4 separate regions of the Homo sapiens genome follow, and regions 2, 3 and 4 are each reported to be linked to region 1. The links are microRNA targets in miRTarBase. Many come from high-throughput screens and were not tested one by one. Region 1 holds a microRNA gene; each other region holds the end of a gene's coding sequence. Distances are between the middles of the regions.
The links. Region 1 holds the annotated microRNA hsa-miR-135b-5p (UAUGGCUUUUCAUUCCUAUGUGA, at 2,693-2,715, shown strand). A microRNA usually pairs through its seed, bases 2 to 8, with sites in the 3' UTR of a target mRNA and lowers its output. Matches are read on the target gene's strand: a 7mer-m8 pairs with bases 2 to 8, a 7mer-A1 pairs with bases 2 to 7 and ends in A, and an 8mer does both.

Region 2: miRTarBase lists LDHA as a target of hsa-miR-135b-5p. The part of its 3' UTR that is shown has no 7-base or 8-base seed match.
Region 3: the mRNA of TOX4 is a reported target of hsa-miR-135b-5p. The part of its 3' UTR that is shown has no 7-base or 8-base seed match.
Region 4: the mRNA of TTLL7 is a reported target of hsa-miR-135b-5p. Seed matches in the 3' UTR shown: 7mer-m8 at 2,173-2,179.

The regions. Positions count from the first base shown.
Region 1 is chr1:205,446,804-205,451,075 of GRCh38, reverse strand. MIR135B (microRNA 135b) reads left to right here and starts at 2,678; the gene lies at 2,678-2,774. The region is part of intron 1 of BLACAT1 (BLACAT1 overlapping LEMD1 locus); the gene reads left to right. It also overlaps a transcript of LEMD1 not described here. RefSeq lists a silencer at 884-1,093.
Region 2 is chr11:18,406,801-18,410,800 of GRCh38, reverse strand. LDHA (lactate dehydrogenase A) reads right to left here. Exons shown (of 8, transcript NM_005566.4): 8 at 2,376-3,684. The coding sequence ends at 3,520. Among named protein-coding and RNA genes, the nearest start is that of LDHC, 3.5 kb to the left of the region's middle.
Region 3 is chr14:21,496,347-21,500,346 of GRCh38, reverse strand. TOX4 (TOX high mobility group box family member 4) reads right to left here. Exons shown (of 9, transcript NM_014828.4): 9 at 1,177-3,801. The coding sequence ends at 3,741. METTL3 (methyltransferase 3, N6-adenosine-methyltransferase complex catalytic subunit) reads left to right here. Exons shown (of 11, transcript NM_019852.5): 7 at 545-583; 8 at 747-855; 9 at 976-1,041; 10 at 1,210-1,322; 11 at 1,978-2,209. The coding sequence ends at 2,089. Among named protein-coding and RNA genes, the nearest start is that of METTL3, 13 kb to the left of the region's middle. RefSeq lists enhancers at 1,506-1,555, 1,586-1,675.
Region 4 is chr1:83,866,283-83,870,282 of GRCh38, reverse strand. TTLL7 (tubulin tyrosine ligase like 7) reads left to right here. Exons shown (of 21, transcript NM_024686.6): 21 at 201-4,000. The coding sequence ends at 321. Among named protein-coding and RNA genes, the nearest start is that of LINC01725, 7.3 kb to the right of the region's middle.

The DNA of each region.
Region 1 (4,272 bases):
GGGCCCCTTGGGCTGCTGGGCCCCAGTTCTCACCACCAGCAAGCTGCAGAAAGGTTGTGGTGGCCCCAGAGGAGACAGGAATCGTGGGCATGGCCCCATCTTGAGGAGAGGGAGTCCTCGAGGTTCTCGCCCAGCAGTGGCCTTTCACTGCCCAGGTTCTCGGGATTGGAGGAAGCAGGGTTTTCCTCGGGAAAGGAGGTGAGGCTTGACCTGCTTCCTCTTTCTCCATATTTCAAGTGAGGTTCACTCCAGCCTGAGACATGATGGCTGTCCCCACCTCCATCCCCAGCCCAGTCCCTCTGGCCCAGACACACCTTAGAGAGAGATGCCCTACTTCCACAGCTTACTTGGGGCTTGTCAGGTGGGCTGGGATTGGTAGGCAGGCCAGGGGCTGAGCCCTTCATGTGCCCAGGGATAGGCAGCTGGGATTGGCAGGCTATGGCTGGGAATCCGAGCGCAGGACTGGGTGAGGGTGGGTGGAGGGGGCCAGGCTCGAGCAGGTCTGAGAAAGGAAATGGAAGGACAGATAAGTGCTGACCTTGTCCTCCCAGGGCAGGGGAGTGGTGGGAGCAGAATAGGGGTATGGGTGAGGAGAGGAACCAGGGCTGCGGAGAAGGGGAGGGGGGCCAGGCAGGAGAGGGGGGCCTGCAGGGAGCCGTCTCAGGTCTCCTGCCAAAAATTAAACTATAAAAAAGCTGGAGGGGAGCGGCAGGGGAAGGAAGGAGAGAAAGGAGATGGGGAGGGAGGGAGGGACCAAACAGCCCCTCTGCACCAATAGCCCGGCAGGGGGACGTGAGTAATACATGGCTGGTTCAGAGGGAGTGAGATCAAAAGCCAGTAGATACAAGAGGTTTGTGCTTCACCGACCAGACAGCCAGAGGCTCAATGAGACCTTTGTTACTCAGGCCCAAGTCAGGGTTGAAGGAATACCTGGCTGCCCCGCCTGCCCAGCCCGCCCCCACCCCCACCCCCACCGTCCTCAGGGCTGGGGGAGGGGCCGGTCACAAGTGAGTCAAGTTGAGTTGGGTACAGCTCAGCCCTGGCCGGTGGTGGGCGGGCAGGGGGAGGGAGGAGGCCTGCCCTCGCTGGGGCGTGGAGCTTCTCGGGGTGAGTGGAGGAGTGAGTGGCTGCCTGGAAGGCAGGAAGTGGCTCTGCGGGGAATTGTGAGGCGGACTGCGAGGGAAAGGGGGCCTTGTTGAGTCCGCCAGGTGAGCAGCCCCTGGGACCCCCAGCCCCTGGCCCAGCATCCCTTGGGAGGGAGCTGAGGGCATTCTGCCTAGAGTCCATGGCTTTATGCAGGGCCTGGGTCTGGGGTTCTGGGGGCCCATGAGAGAGGAAGGAAAGGAGAACCAGAGGGGGTTGGGGCTGGGGCAGATGGCCCAAAGTTCAGGTGGGAGGCCGCAGGATGCCTGGTTGTTTGGCCCTGAAGGTTGGGCATGTCTGGAGTGTGTGGAGGGGCGTGCTGTGCTGTGCTGTGTGCTGTGTGCTGTGCTGTGCTGTGCTGTTGTTGGGGAATGCAGGATTCCTGTCCAGTGAAAACAGGTTGCTTCTACCAGGGTTGTGCAGGGAGCCAGCAAGTGTTGCCCTGGGGCTGAGGGTACAGTTGGGGTGGGAGAGGCAGCTACTCCCTGGCAGAGGCAGGGCCTGATCTGGGCCTGGGGCCTCTTACCATCTTCTTGGGGGCCCCTGGGAGAGGTCTGAGGCCCCTGGGGCTTTCCTGAGCCTGGGCTAGCAGGAGCCCTAGAAGCCCACTTCTCTGAAGCTGATGCCTGCAGCTGACCCGTCATGGGAGCGGGTGGGGAAATAGCACTTGTGATTAGAACACACCTTTTCCAGGGCCCTGAGACCTTGGTTCGCCTTAACTCAGCTCTTCAATCCAGTCCTAGAGATGTCTGTGCTAACCCCCATGTCCTGCCAATGAGAGCGGCAGGGCACTGCGCACCCCTCCCACAGCCTTGTCAGGGATGGCTCCAGAGTGAGCTGCCCTCAGCTTGGGGAGGTTTCAGCTGAAGCCCTCTTTCTGACTCCAACCAGGTCTGGAGACAGAGATCTCACTCTCCTCTAAACTATGCAAGAATGGGTGTTGTCGGTAACCACCCAGACTGGTCTGGGTAGGTTGGCCCAGCCCCCACCCCTGGGGGCACTCAAGAAACCTATTTAACCCCTCTAAACAAAGGGTAGGTCCTCATCGCTGCCCTCCTTTACCCAGACCCTCCTTTGCCCTCTGTGCTTCCAGTGGCTGGACTAGAAAGAGTTAAGCTTTGTAAAGAGGGAGCCTAACCTGGGGCCCCCCATCCTGGGTACTGGCAGCAGCAGCCTTGAAAAGATCCGGCCTTATTCTCTAGGGAAGGGGTAGTTAAGGACCCTGGGCAGGGGGCTGGAAGCTAATTAAGGGAATTTGAGGAGGTCCTTTATGGCCAGGAAGCCACCCCTCCTCATACCCTGGAGTGAGGACCATTGTGTGAGGCCTTTGTAGGGCAAGAACTGGAAACTCATTACTGGGATGGCTTTAGTGCAGGTGGTGGAAGATGGTGAGAGAATTTAACCTGGGGGGCCCAGTCCTGGAGGGAGGCAGTGTGGGTGGGTCTGGGGTCGGGGGTGCTGAGAAGGGGAGTGAGGGCTTCTCGGGTGCCCCAGCTTCTCGCTTCCCTATGAGATTCCTGCCGCTGGACCCCTCCACTCTGCTGTGGCCTATGGCTTTTCATTCCTATGTGATTGCTGTCCCAAACTCATGTAGGGCTAAAAGCCATGGGCTACAGTGAGGGGCGAGCTCCTTCTCCTGCGCAGCTGCACCTCCCATGGGACCAGGTTCGGAGCCAGCCACCAAGGGGCACCAGAAGGAGGCTTTGCTTGGGGGTGGGGCATCACGGGATCTGGTAACCTGGGATCGGGGCTAAGCCGTGTGACCTTGGCCCAGTCACTTCCCTTCTGGCCCTGTTTCCTCACTCTGGAATGAAGAGACTGGGCCGGTGATTCCAGAGGGAGATTCCCTCTGAGGAAGGAAGGAGACCTTCAGGGTGTGCTGAGCTTTCTGAGTCGGTTCCTTCCCCCTTGCCAAATTACTGAGGCCTGGCTTATGGCCAGAGATTTGGGGGCTGAAGTCAAGGGCCTCAGGCCATGAAGACTTGGGCCTTTGCTCAGTGCCTCCAGGAAAACCTCACTCCTTCACTCCTTTCTCTGAGGTCAGCTTGGAATCTGCAGCCTTTTTTCTGTGTAAGGAGACCTCTGGGCTCTTTCTGAGGCTGAAATGGGAACACTCCATGCCGGCCACGAGGGAAGAGGAGGTGTCTGCAGAGTGAAACTAGGAAGGCAGGCGCTCCCCCGGGCGACAGGCTGGACTCCAGGGTCCCTGGCTCCTGGTGTGCTACCATCTCCAGGAGCTGCCCCCTCCTGCGGTGTGTGAAGGGCACCAGCCCTCCCTGCCCCCGTCCTGCTTGTCACTCAGCTTGCCTGGCTCCTCCCTATGCCTGTCGCCACTCCCACATTCCTTCCCCTGCCCCCTTTTAAATCGGCCTGATTTTAGCCCTCCCATCCTGGAAGATTCCAACAGGTGGCTGTGGTGGAAGAGGAAGCATCCTCGTACCCCGCCTCCTACTCCCTGTTCCAGTCCCCAGTCTGTCTAAGACAGACCACTGAAGAATCACAGAAAGCACTAGATTTGGTATTGACAATCAGAAGGCAAGTTTCTTATAATATCTCAGAGCCCTTAATTTCACCAACCAACACTTACTGGGTACCTACTATGTACCCCATGATTCTAACCGCCTCACCTGCACTAACCCATTTCATCCTCAAGACAGTCCTGTCTACTGTTAGCCTATTTAACTTATGGGAATTCTGAGGCACAGGGAGCTAAGAAATTGGCCCACGTTCATATGGATAGGAAGGAGCACAACTGGGACGTGAACCCACGTGGTCTGGTGCCAAAACCCATGCTCTTAGCACATCATGCTGCATATTGGGAGAGCCAACACCAGTGCATGGGAAAGTACTCTGAAAACCAGGGAGTGCTGTACCCAGACGGGAGGTTGTTCTCACGAGATCTCTATTGGATGCACGTCCACAAATTGGCCCCGTGGCCCAACTCCAATCACCCTTTGTCCATCACTGGTTTTCCTTTTCCCACAGGAGGTCGGGGGGAGCGGGGGGATCAGAACAATAGGAGAAGCAAAGAGAAATCCCAAGCCAGCTGGGTTTTTGCTGGGGCTGATCCAGGCTACTTCCCCTCCTGCCCCAGCTTAGATGGTGAAAGGAACAAGGCATGAGAATTGG
Region 2 (4,000 bases), not on the chromosome of region 1:
ACATACATACTCTGGCTTTCCTTGACAAATGTCAACTACCATCATTTCCTGTATATCTCTCTCTTATGGCACTTTTCTCAACCAGCAACTAGCCTGAAGCTAGAGGCCTCCTATAGCAGACAGGAGCAGCAACCACTTGGTCCTATACCTCCACAGCAACCTCATTTATCCCCGGGCTGAGAGGGAGATTGCTGGCCTGGATGGACTGGAAATTTAAGCTCTACACCTGCCTCAGGCCCCTGGCGGCCAAGGAAGGTATCAGCTTGGTAGTGGCCAAACTGATGCTAGATGACTAGAACTGGCTCTTCATCCATGCCTGCCCAAATACTCCAAACTTACTTAACATTTTGCTTACTTGATTGCAGTAACTTTAGAACCAAAATTTGTCTTTATTTATTCTTGTACATTGCAACATTTACCAAAGCATAGTAGGTACTCACTAAAGAATTTTTGGGCCAGACATGGTGGCTCACTCCTGCAATCCCAGCACTTTGGGAGGCCGAGGCTTCAGCCCAGGAGTTCAAGACCAGTCTGGCAACATAGGGAGACCCCCATCTCTACCCCCAAAAATAAAAACAAAATAAAATAAAATAATTTTTTTTGAGACAGAGTCTCGCAGTCTCGCCCAGGCTGTAGTACAGTGGTCCGATCTCGGCTCACTGCAAGCTCCGCCTCCCGGGTTCACGCCATTCTCCTGCCTCAGCCTCCCGAGTAGCTGGGACTACAGGCGCCCGCCACCATGCCCAGCTAATTTTTTGTATTTTTAGTAGAGATGGAGTTTCACTATGTTAGCCAGGATGTTTTCAATCTCCTGACCTTGTGATCCACCCGCCTCAGCCTCCCAAAGTGCTGGGATTACAGGCGTGAGCCACCGCACCTGGCCAAAATAAAAAAAAAATTTAAAGAATTTTTAAAGAACATGGCTTTGAAGTACTGAGTTTTATTTTGGCAACATGGGCTTTAGTGGGGGAAAAAAAGGAAGTAGAACCATGTTCTGAGCATCACATTTGCTTCTACACTAACTGGCAACTTCTGTGAGATGGGGATAAGGCCTGCTTAATTTAGTTCCCAAGGTTACTATGGAAAAAAAAAATCAAGTTTCTTTGCAGAGTTGGCCTATTCCTTGCCTGGGGCAGGAAGGTACAAACTGAACCTGGAACATTTATTTTGCCCATAAGTAAGGAAACTTTACAAGATTGCATTTGAAAATTCATGAAAGATTAATAGAATCAGTCTATTTCACTTAAATATTATTTTTCAGTCATGTTGGTATTGACTAATTTATTGTATCAAATAATATAAAATTAATGTAAATTTAAAAATTTTAAAGACTGAAGGTGACTCAAAGTTTACAAAAGGCTACAGGATTAAGTACAGGCCTCTTTTTGTGCTAATTAAAATATTCTTTTTTTTTTTTTTGAAACAGGGTCTCACTCTGTCACCCAGGCTGGAGTACAGTGGTGGGATCTTGGCTCACTGCAACCTTTATCTCCCGGGTTCAAGGGATCCTCCCACCTGAGCCTCCTGTGCAGCTAGGACTACAGGCACCTGCCACCACGCCTAGCTAATTTCTTTTTTGTAGAGACAGGCTTTTGCCATGTTGCCCAGACTGGTCTGGAACTCCTGGGCTCAAGCAATCTACCCACCTTGGCCTCCTAAAGTGCTGGGAATTTGAAGCCACTGCACCCAGCCTATATTCTAAGATTAGATACTGGTGATGGTTGCCAACTATGTGAATACACTAAAAATCCACAGAACGATACGCTTTATAGCTGTGTCCAACCCTTTGAATGTGAGGACTCTTTAGGTGGCAGCAGGTATCCAGATCATGAACTTTTTTGTAGCTCATCAGCTATCATTAGTGTTAATTTCTTTAATTTTTATTGAGACAGTCTCGCTGTGTTGCCCAGGCTCGAGTGCAGTGGTGCCATCTTGGCTCACTTCAATCTCTGCCTCCCCGGTTCAAGCGATCCTCTCACCTCAGCCTCTTGTGCCTCAGCTTCCCAAGTAGCTGGGATTACAAGCATAGGCCACCATACCTGGCAAATCTTTCGATTTTTAGTACAGATGGGGTTTCACCATGTTGGCCATGCTAGTCTTGAACTCCTGATCCACCCGCCTCAGCCTCCCCAAGTGCTGGGATTATAGGTGTCAGCCACCACAGCTGGCACATGTTAGTGTATTTAATGTGTGGCCCAAGACAATTCTTCTTCCAATGTGGCTCAGGGAAAGCAAAAGATTGGACAACCAGGCTTTAAGATAATTCCTTCCCTTAACTAGCTCTCAGGAAAGAATCTTTGGAAAAAGATCCTGGAGTTGGGAATGACAATAATGTTGTTCAGTTAACCTTTACAAGTATGGTTTTCAGGCCTGGATAAGGGTCACAGTTGTATTTTCAGAAAAATGTGCAGAAAACTTGAGTAGACATCCACCAAGGTTACTTGTTTTTTTTGGTTTTGTTTTGTTTTTTTAACAGATGGGGTTTTGTTGTGTTGGCCAGGCTGGTCCCCAATTCCTGGCCTCCAGTGATCAGCCCACCTGGGCTTCCCAAAGTGCTGGGATTATAGGCATGAGCCACTGCACCCTGCCTTAAGATTGTTTTTAATTGTTACCAGCTTCCAGAGGACAAGATCTCAAAAATCTGTGTTCCCTATAGTGACACACTATCATTGCCTATATTCAGTTGGCAAATAAATTTTACATTTACATATAGAATGTTACTTTCCAATTATGATTAGCATTATTATCAAATATATAATACTTTGGGACTTACAATGGAAGTGGTACCAATACAACTCAGTTGACTATTACATCCTCTGCTATTAGTCAATAATATCCCTGTTAGAAAAAATCGTTGCAGGGTTGCCCAAGAATAGCCTAATATTTCCAAATTAATATAATAACTAGCAGCTTTATGACTTTATATCTTAATATAATGAATTAACCAAAGTAGTCACTGTTCAAGGTTTATTGGGGGTTTTAGTTGGTATAACACTTGGATAGTTGGTTGCATTGTTTGTATGTAGATCTTTTTACATTATATGGTAATGTACACTACTGATATAGTTCACAAAATAAGATCCTTTGGAAGAATTATGCACAAGACATGATATTGGATTTATACACTGGATCCCAGGATGTGACTCACTGGGAAAAAATGTTGGACTAGGCATGTTCAGTGAAGGAGCCAGGAAGTTATATAACACACGGTAAACATCCACCTGGCTCAAGGGGCAAATGCAGTACGTACAGCATTGGCAGTGGTGCGTCAGAGGTGGCAGAACTATTTCACACTAACCAGTTGAAGACTACACAAGATTAATACCATCCAGCATCAGGATATAGCTGTGGATTTTACAAACCATTCTTATTTCTAACTTCAGGAGTTGATGTTTTTCCCAGTCCATCTTAAAATATTACTGCTTTAATCACAGATCAGATAAAAAGGACAACATGCACAACCTCCACCTAGAATCCTGTTGTAGCCTAGACAGTGAAATGATATGACATCAGAAGACTTTAAAATTGCAGCTCCTTTTGGATCCCCCAAAGTGTATCTGCACTCTTCTTCAAACGGGCCTCTTCCTCAGAAGTCAGAGTCACCTTCACAAGGTCTGAGATTCCATTCTGTCCCAAAATGCAAGGAACACTAAGGAAGACATCATCCTTTATTCCGTAAAGACCCTGAAGATGAAATGAAAAAAAAAAAATCTCACATTTTGTCTATGCATTCCCAGGTTTCCCAAGACTTACAGTCTCTATAATTATAAAGCTTTTTTTTTTTAATTTTTTTTTGAGGCAGAGTCTCGCTCTGTCGCCCAGGCTGGAGTGCAGTGGCACGATCTCAGCTCACCGCAACCTCCACCTCCAGGGTTCAAGTAATTCTCCTGCTTCAGCCTTCTGGGACTACAGGCGTGCGCCACCACACTTGGCTAATTTTTGTATGTTTAGTACAGATGGGGTTTCACCATGTTGGCCAGGTTGGTCTCAAATTCTTGAC
Region 3 (4,000 bases), not on the chromosome of region 1:
TGTTGCTTAGGCTGGAGTGCAGTAGTGTGATCTCAGCTCACTGCAACCTCCACCTCCCAGGTTCAAGCAATTCTCCTGCCTCAGCCTCCTGAGTAGCTGGGATTACAGGCACGTGCCACCAGCCCAGCTAATTTTTTCTTTTTGTATTTTTAGTAGAGACTGGATTTCACCATGTTAGCCAGGATGGTCTCTATCTCCTGACCTTGTGATCCACTCACCTCGAGCTCCTAAAGTGCTGGGATTACAGGCGTGAGCTACCATGCCCAGCCAGTCTTTTTTTCTACTGAGTCCTAATGCCTGTTTACAATGCAAATTTTACCCCGAATATATATTTAACTCTACATTTGTTCTTTGAGAAAGGTAAGGTTGTTGAGCATAGTTTTATCTTTTCGTTCTTAGATCCACCATGCTTTTGGTGGTGTGCATGTAAATGTTCACTGAGCGTCTACTGAAAAAGTGTTTATAGTGTTTTTAACACATCACATATTTTGAAGGGAAAAAAAATATGGGCATACAAATAGTTGTTTAACTCATTTCTTTCTAGGGCCATGGAGTTGGGGAGAGAATGTCTAAACCTCTGGGGGTAAGTAGTGGTTGTGTTGCTTTCTTTTGAGGGTAATACTGTTACAGTGAGATACATGTTCTCTTCTCCCAGACTATTCTGTGATTCCTTGCTTCTATAAATGGTACTACCCCTAAACTGTAAAAGTTTGGCTAAAATTCTAGTTCTTTTTTATGCCCCACAGGTATGAACGGGTAGATGAAATTATTTGGGTGAAGACAAATCAACTGCAACGCATCATTCGGACAGGCCGTACAGGTCACTGGTTGAACCATGGGAAGGAACACTGCTTGGTGAGCAGCAGTGGGGCCCAATTCAATAGGTGGAGCACAAAGAAGAATCATTTGATTTCTTACTGAGAAAAAGTTCAAAGGTGTGGTTTCATAAGGTAATCTGTTATCTGTGGTGAGCAGGTTGGTGTCAAAGGAAATCCCCAAGGCTTCAACCAGGGTCTGGATTGTGATGTGATCGTAGCTGAGGTATGTGCTTCCCAGGCCTCCAAAGCTTCCACATTTTTGTTGGTATCAGTTATTCATGTTGGGTGTATTCTCATCCCAGATTTTTCTCATTTAGATCATAAACATAATAGAAAGGGCTAGAATTGCAATCTTGTGTAACTTAAAAAGCAGCTAGTTTTTATTTCCTAGGTTCGTTCCACCAGTCATAAACCAGATGAAATCTATGGCATGATTGAAAGACTATCTCCTGGCACTCGCAAGATTGAGTTATTTGGACGACCACACAATGTGCAACCCAACTGGTAAGGTGACCAGAGAACAGGCTAGTCCTCAAGGGGCTATTATTTATGATTAAGGACAGAACTTAGTAGAGCTTCACATTGTTTTACACTAGTCCATAAATGAGCTTCACAGGATTCATAAGCCACTTAAGCTTGTATTTAAACTGTTTTATGAGATTCTACAAATATTCATTAGAAACTCAACAGGTTCTAGGACCCAAAAGCACTGCTCCCTAGGGTTTCTACTCTCTTCACAACCCAAGGATCTTCCTCAGCCATTCTGTGATGTATTGAATCTGCCCCCTGGTGGTTACGAAGTTATCTATTTAATCTGTCAATAATTACATCTTTCACCCCTTAACAGAGCTTAAAACACATGCTGCTAGCATTTTGCTTATCCAAAGAATACTCCCTGGTAGCAACTCTGTGAAGCAGGCCTGGCTAAGCATTAGTTACTAACCCTCAGATAATACAGATCCAGTCTATTTTAACACCAGAATCTATGCCAATTCTGAACTAGTAATTCTACCATATACTATTCTAATGTTAAGCTCTTTTTAGAATTGGCATATTTGATATGATGATAGGCAGTCTTCATTTGGTATGCATTTTTTAACAATATTAAACCCTCTAATTCCAGGATTTCTGGTTTGCCCCTCCTTTTACACTGTTTCAGGATCACCCTTGGAAACCAACTGGATGGGATCCACCTACTAGACCCAGATGTGGTTGCACGGTTCAAGCAAAGGTACCCAGATGGTATCATCTCTAAACCTAAGAATTTATAGAAGCACTTCCTTACAGAGCTAAGAATCCATAGCCATGGCTCTGTAAGCTAAACCTGAAGAGTGATATTTGTACAATAGCTTTCTTCTTTATTTAAATAAACATTTGTATTGTAGTTGGGATTCTGAAGTCCATTCTGGCTCTGCTACTTAACAGTGTATAATCTTGTGCAACTCATCTCTCAGTATTATATGTGAAATGGGAGTATTACCTCATTGGGTTGCTGTGAAGGTTCAAACTAAATGAGTGCATGGGAAACATTAAAATGATCATTATAGGCTAGGCACAGTGGCTCACACCTGTAATCCGAGCACTTTGGGAAGCCGAGGTAGGAGGGTAACTGTAGCCCAGGAGTTCAAGACTAGACTGGGCAACATAGTGAGACCCCATCTCTACTGCTACCCTCCAAAACCATTAAAAAAACAGGAATGCAGGCTGGGTGCGGTGGCTCATGCCTGTAATCCCAGCACTTTGGGAGGTCAAGGCGGGCGGATCATGAGGTCAGGAGTTCGAGACCAGCCTGGCCAACATGGTGAAACCCTGTCTCTACTAAAAATACCACAAATTAGCTGGGCGTAGTGGCGGGCGCCTGTAATCCTAGCTACTCGGGAGGCTGATGCAGGAGAATCGCTTGAACCCGGGAGGCAGAGGTTTCAGTGAGCTGAGGTCGCACCACTGCACTCCAGCCTGGGTGACAGAGCGAGACTCTGTCTCAAAAAAAAAAAAAAAAAAAAAAAACAAAAAACACACAGAAAACAGGAATGCATAGGATAAAACTATGTACGTAGCTGGTTGAGGAGGAGGTTCTCTAGGACAGCATTCCTGTCTACAAACAGTAAAAATTTGAGTTTTATTTAAAGTTATCACCACTTGGACTATCATGCTGTAAACTTCTGCTTATTCTGTTACAACCAGGTGGCTTCTCTAGTCTGTTTTTCTTTAGATTATGTCTAAGAAATAATGATAGACCTATGGTCTTTTAAAGATAGTTCATCAAACACAAGTGAATACAACTTTAGACTTTGGTGGAACCTCTTACTAATGATGTAGAGTTCCGCCTCTTAGATTCATGAACTGTGATAACTCAGATAAGGATGGTAACTGCAGAAATAATATATATAAAGAGAAATCACTCCTGGGTGATGTCATTTTCCATGTAGCCCAGTATGCCCATGTTGAAAAGTTTTGTTTTCAAAGCAGTGTACTGATGTGATAATGGGGAATAACATTTTTTTATGAGGGAACCCTTTAAAATGGATGCACACAGTGGCATTTTCTCCTAGGCTCAAAGCTGAGTACACTCCCGTAATTTTAATAATATTTTAGGCAAGTCCTATGACAATTATACCAACAAGTTTCTTCAACCCCACCACCACCCCACCATCTCTATGCTTTGCTTGCCCAGACTCCCTTCACCCTTTCCTCTGCTATTACCGCTTATGGTTGAAAGTAAAAAGCATCTCCAGATTACAGCAAATTCAGTGGCCCTGCTCCATAGCCTGGCCTCTGCTGAAGGAAGAAAAGGGGTGAAACATGAACAGCCATCATGGGTTGTGATGAGGCACTACCAGAAGCCCAGCTTGTGTTTCAAAAACAGGCTCTTGGACACTTTCCCAGCAGATAACTCTTCACTGGCTTGGAGAACAGGAAGGACTATTTCACAAACACCACTGTGTTTGAATTTCTAGAGGCTACCCAGGCCAAGAATACATCCCTAAGAGAGAAAAAGACATACACAAACAGAATTATACACAAACTGAAATAGAATTACAGCCTAGATACATTTTTTTTTTTGAGACGGACCTCATGGGTTCACGCCATTCTCCTGCCTTAGCCTCCCGAGTAGCTGGGACTACAGGTGCCCACCACCATGCCCGGCCAATTTTTTGTATTTTTAGTGGGGACAGGGTTTC
Region 4 (4,000 bases), 120 Mb from region 1:
GCTAACATCATATATTGCATCTATATTTAGCTCTTCTCTCCTTTCCTACAGTCTGGAGGAGGAAATCTTTTTATATGAATTGCATTTTTGTTACAGTAACATTTCTCATATAGACTACGTAAATTGCTAACCACATAACCCTTTAGTGAGTTAGTTATAATTTGCTTGTAAAAATCTAATTTGTTAACCATCATTTTTAGGTATTTACTACCAGGGAGCACCCAATTCTTCTTGAGAACACCAACCTACAACTTGAAGTACAATTCACCTGGAATGACTCGCTCCAATGTTTTGTTTACATCCAGATATGGCCATCTGTGAAACAGAAGGGAAGATCGCCATTGGTTATACATAACAGCAATTCATTTTTTTCCTCTGAAGTTGAACATGCAAAGAACATGACCATTAAGTGCTGTTTTATGTATATAAGACATATATATGTGTGAAAATATATGCACATATGCACCCTAATAACATATATTTATTATATTAAATGATATATGAAAGAAGAATTAGCAGAAAATGGAATATAAGACTTAACCTTTCTGGAAACGTAATAAACCATGTTAAAATTGTTTACACAAATATGTGAATGTCTAGAATCTGCTAGGTTTATAATTAATTCCTTCCTACTAGAAATGTTATTTTTGCTGCAGAGTATATAAAACAAATTGATCTTGAAGATCCAATTACAGTGTTAAATTATTTTCTAGATAACATGCCTTTTGACCTGAAAAAGGGTTTAGTATAATACCTTAAAAATTCTCATATATAGTAGCCATTTTAAATGAAACAAAAAGATTTAGAAGCCTGGTGTTGCTTGATGATAAGATTAAGAAGTTTAAAACGGGTTTATCATTACTATAGCACACTGTAAAGTGCTAGAAAAGTCATAACCTGATTCTCCAATCTTTTTATTCCTCTATGTGGAAATTTAGCTACTTGTAATAAGGTACATTTTCAGTAAGGATCTGGTGAGATCATATTATGATCTAACATGAAAGACAGGCTGGGCGCGGTGGCTCACGCCTGTAATTCCAGCACTTTGGGAGGCCGAGGTGAGTGGATCACCGCTGGTCAGGAGTTTGAGACTAGCCTGGCCAACATGGTGAAACCCCATCTCTACTAAAAATACAAAAATTAGCTGGGCGTGATGGTAAGTGCTTGTAATCCCAGCTACTTGGGCGGCTGAGACAGGAGAATCACTTGAACCTGGGAGGCGGAGGTTGCAGTGAGCCGAGATTGTGCCATTGCATTCTAGCCTGGGTGACAAGAGTGAAACTCTGTCTCAAAAAAAAAAAATAATAATAAAATAAAATAAATAAATAAATAAAAAGAAGATAAAAATAAATAAATAAAATGGAAGACAATCCAATGGGTTAAAAATAAAATGTAAACTAGCTTTCATTTTTACTTTTCATAATCACATAAAGGAACAGAAAATGATGGTAACAAAATCTTTCTATATGGCTTTTATGTCTTATACCACTCATTTTTATTTGGAAAGTATATCTTTGATGGGTTTAACATGTGGTTAAATACAATTTCTCCTGTTTCGCAGAAGTAGAAGAGTTGACACATTTCACTCATTTTAGTGTTACAGGATAATGAGACAAACTTATTTTTATAAATCTCTCAAGGTTGAAATCAACTTATATTGCAAATTCTAATACAGTAGTTTCTCATTGCACCACAGAAACAGTTAAAGGATTGTGAATAGAAGATTTCAATTATCACATATTACAAGTCATCAGTGTACCCTTGAGGGTTTTTAAAAAATCAAAACAGAGAACGAAGTGTTCTTGTCCAAAGTTGTTATGCATAAGTTTCATAGCAGTTTACTTCCTTTTCTTGAATACAGTTTTTAAAACCAAGAGTGAGCTTTCAGTTTTCCATAAAAATATAAGCCGTACTACTTTGACATTGAAATCATCAGTGCAGCCATCACTTCTTAGAATTTATTTAAACTTCTTCTCCCAACAGTTTTATTTTCTTTTAGCTGCTAATTATTTTCGAAATTCATGAATGTTTTACCTCCTTTTACTATTCTGAAAGTTATTTCAAGAAGTGGCCCCAAAGCAGGAGAACTGAGAGGGGCAAATTGGCCTGGTTTAATTCACAGCCTGAAGAATTGGCAACCTAAAGTTATAAGTTAGATGTATTTTGCTTTTCAAGCCATCTTCTGAGCCTTTTTTAGGCTGAAATGATTTGTTTATTTCCCAAATTATTGCTAGCTACTTGATTTTTTATGGCTACCTAACATCCACATTTGGTAGATACTTTTCCTCTCTGCATGCATCCCAAAGAAGAATTTGCTATTTGTGGAAGAAGAGAATAAGGGTATCAGAATGAAGGAAATTACAGTGACTACACTGTTTATGACTCCATTTTGTGAATTCTTAAATATGCTATGGATTTTTTTTTAGAAAAAATAATGCAAAAATTGGGATATTACAGAATCACCATAAAGATGATCAACAAGTAATAAGTCTTTTCATGGAGTTCATTTTTCTTTTAAATTCATGATTTGGCCACAAAAATATATATATAAGTGTCTGATATATGATAACAGCCCAGTTTCTCGGCCACTCATTTGCATTATCTTAAATCACAAATAATTACTTAATTTGCTGGAGTGTGTGCTTTGCAACTTTTGTACCAGAGCAAAATTTGTATTTAAAACAAAAAATAAGAATGCCCATCACTAGGAGAAACACTCCTCACAGAAAACACACACACACACACACACACAATTTAAAAACTGAGTAAATTTAAATGTATGAAAGTACCCCACAAATTGATTTCAACAAATAAATTTCATTTCTCTAGCTACTTATGTCTGGCCTTATTTTGAGCGTTACAATTTTATTGCCTTCATTTGCCTATTTAGACTGATGTAGTTTGATATGATGAAGTTGTGAATAAAAGCCTTGTGTTCATTATTTATATATACTACCTGGTATGCTATGGACTGTGTCTGCTGTAGTGCTATTCCCTAATGAGCAACTAAGAGAAGACACAACAATAAACCATGGAAGTGTTGGGAGGCCATGGAAATGATTTAGAGGTATAAAATATTCCCAAGTTTTTATTATAAATTTTTATTCATAGGTTAAAACATATAAGCATAAGTGATTGTACAGGTGTGACTCCCTTTTCTAGGAGAGAAAATAGCTTTATTTGAAAACTCCAAAAGCTACTTAATCTTACCAGAGGTTTTTAATAGGGGAACTGGGTTTACTTACAATGAAAGCATATTTTCATTCTGCTATAGAAAAACATATCCCTGCTCATTCAGTAAATCTAAGATTGGAATGCTTTCTAGAACTATGCAATATTTGAATAATTTCTAGAAATGTCTAAGAAACAACCTTTTTTATTTTAAATCATCACTTACAAACGTAGTCTGAGACTGCAAACTAGTTTTCACTTGACTAATCCATCATTATAGATTAGTTACCATTTGCTCTATATAATCTATTGAAGAAACTATTGTTATTCATATTTTGATTAATTTTACTAGCAACAAATTTTTATTTTAGTAGCATTGCATTTACCTTAAATATGTAAAAATGAAGTTGTAACAGGATCAAATATGGAAATGGCAATGGTAACTCTGCCTAGAACATAGTTGAATGTCCTTGGTTGTCGGTAAGATGCAAAGATCTATACAAATTTTATCATAGGTCAAAATTATTTCTAAATATACAAACAGTTTCAACTATTTCTTTCTCCCTAAAACTAAAACCAAACCAAACCCAAATGAAGAAACCTAAACTTCTTTTCATCTAATAGTTATACCCAACTAGATAATAGTAGCTTCTAGACATCAATAAAAAGATTTCATTTTAACTGTCTTTTTAATTTGTAAAATATATGAGTATGGAATTTTGTATCTAACTTGAAATTTCAGATGTTTTAATAATCCAAATACGTTCTTCTTTAGCATGTCAAAGTACTAATAGTTAAAAAATTTCTTTAGATTTAAGCATATACATTA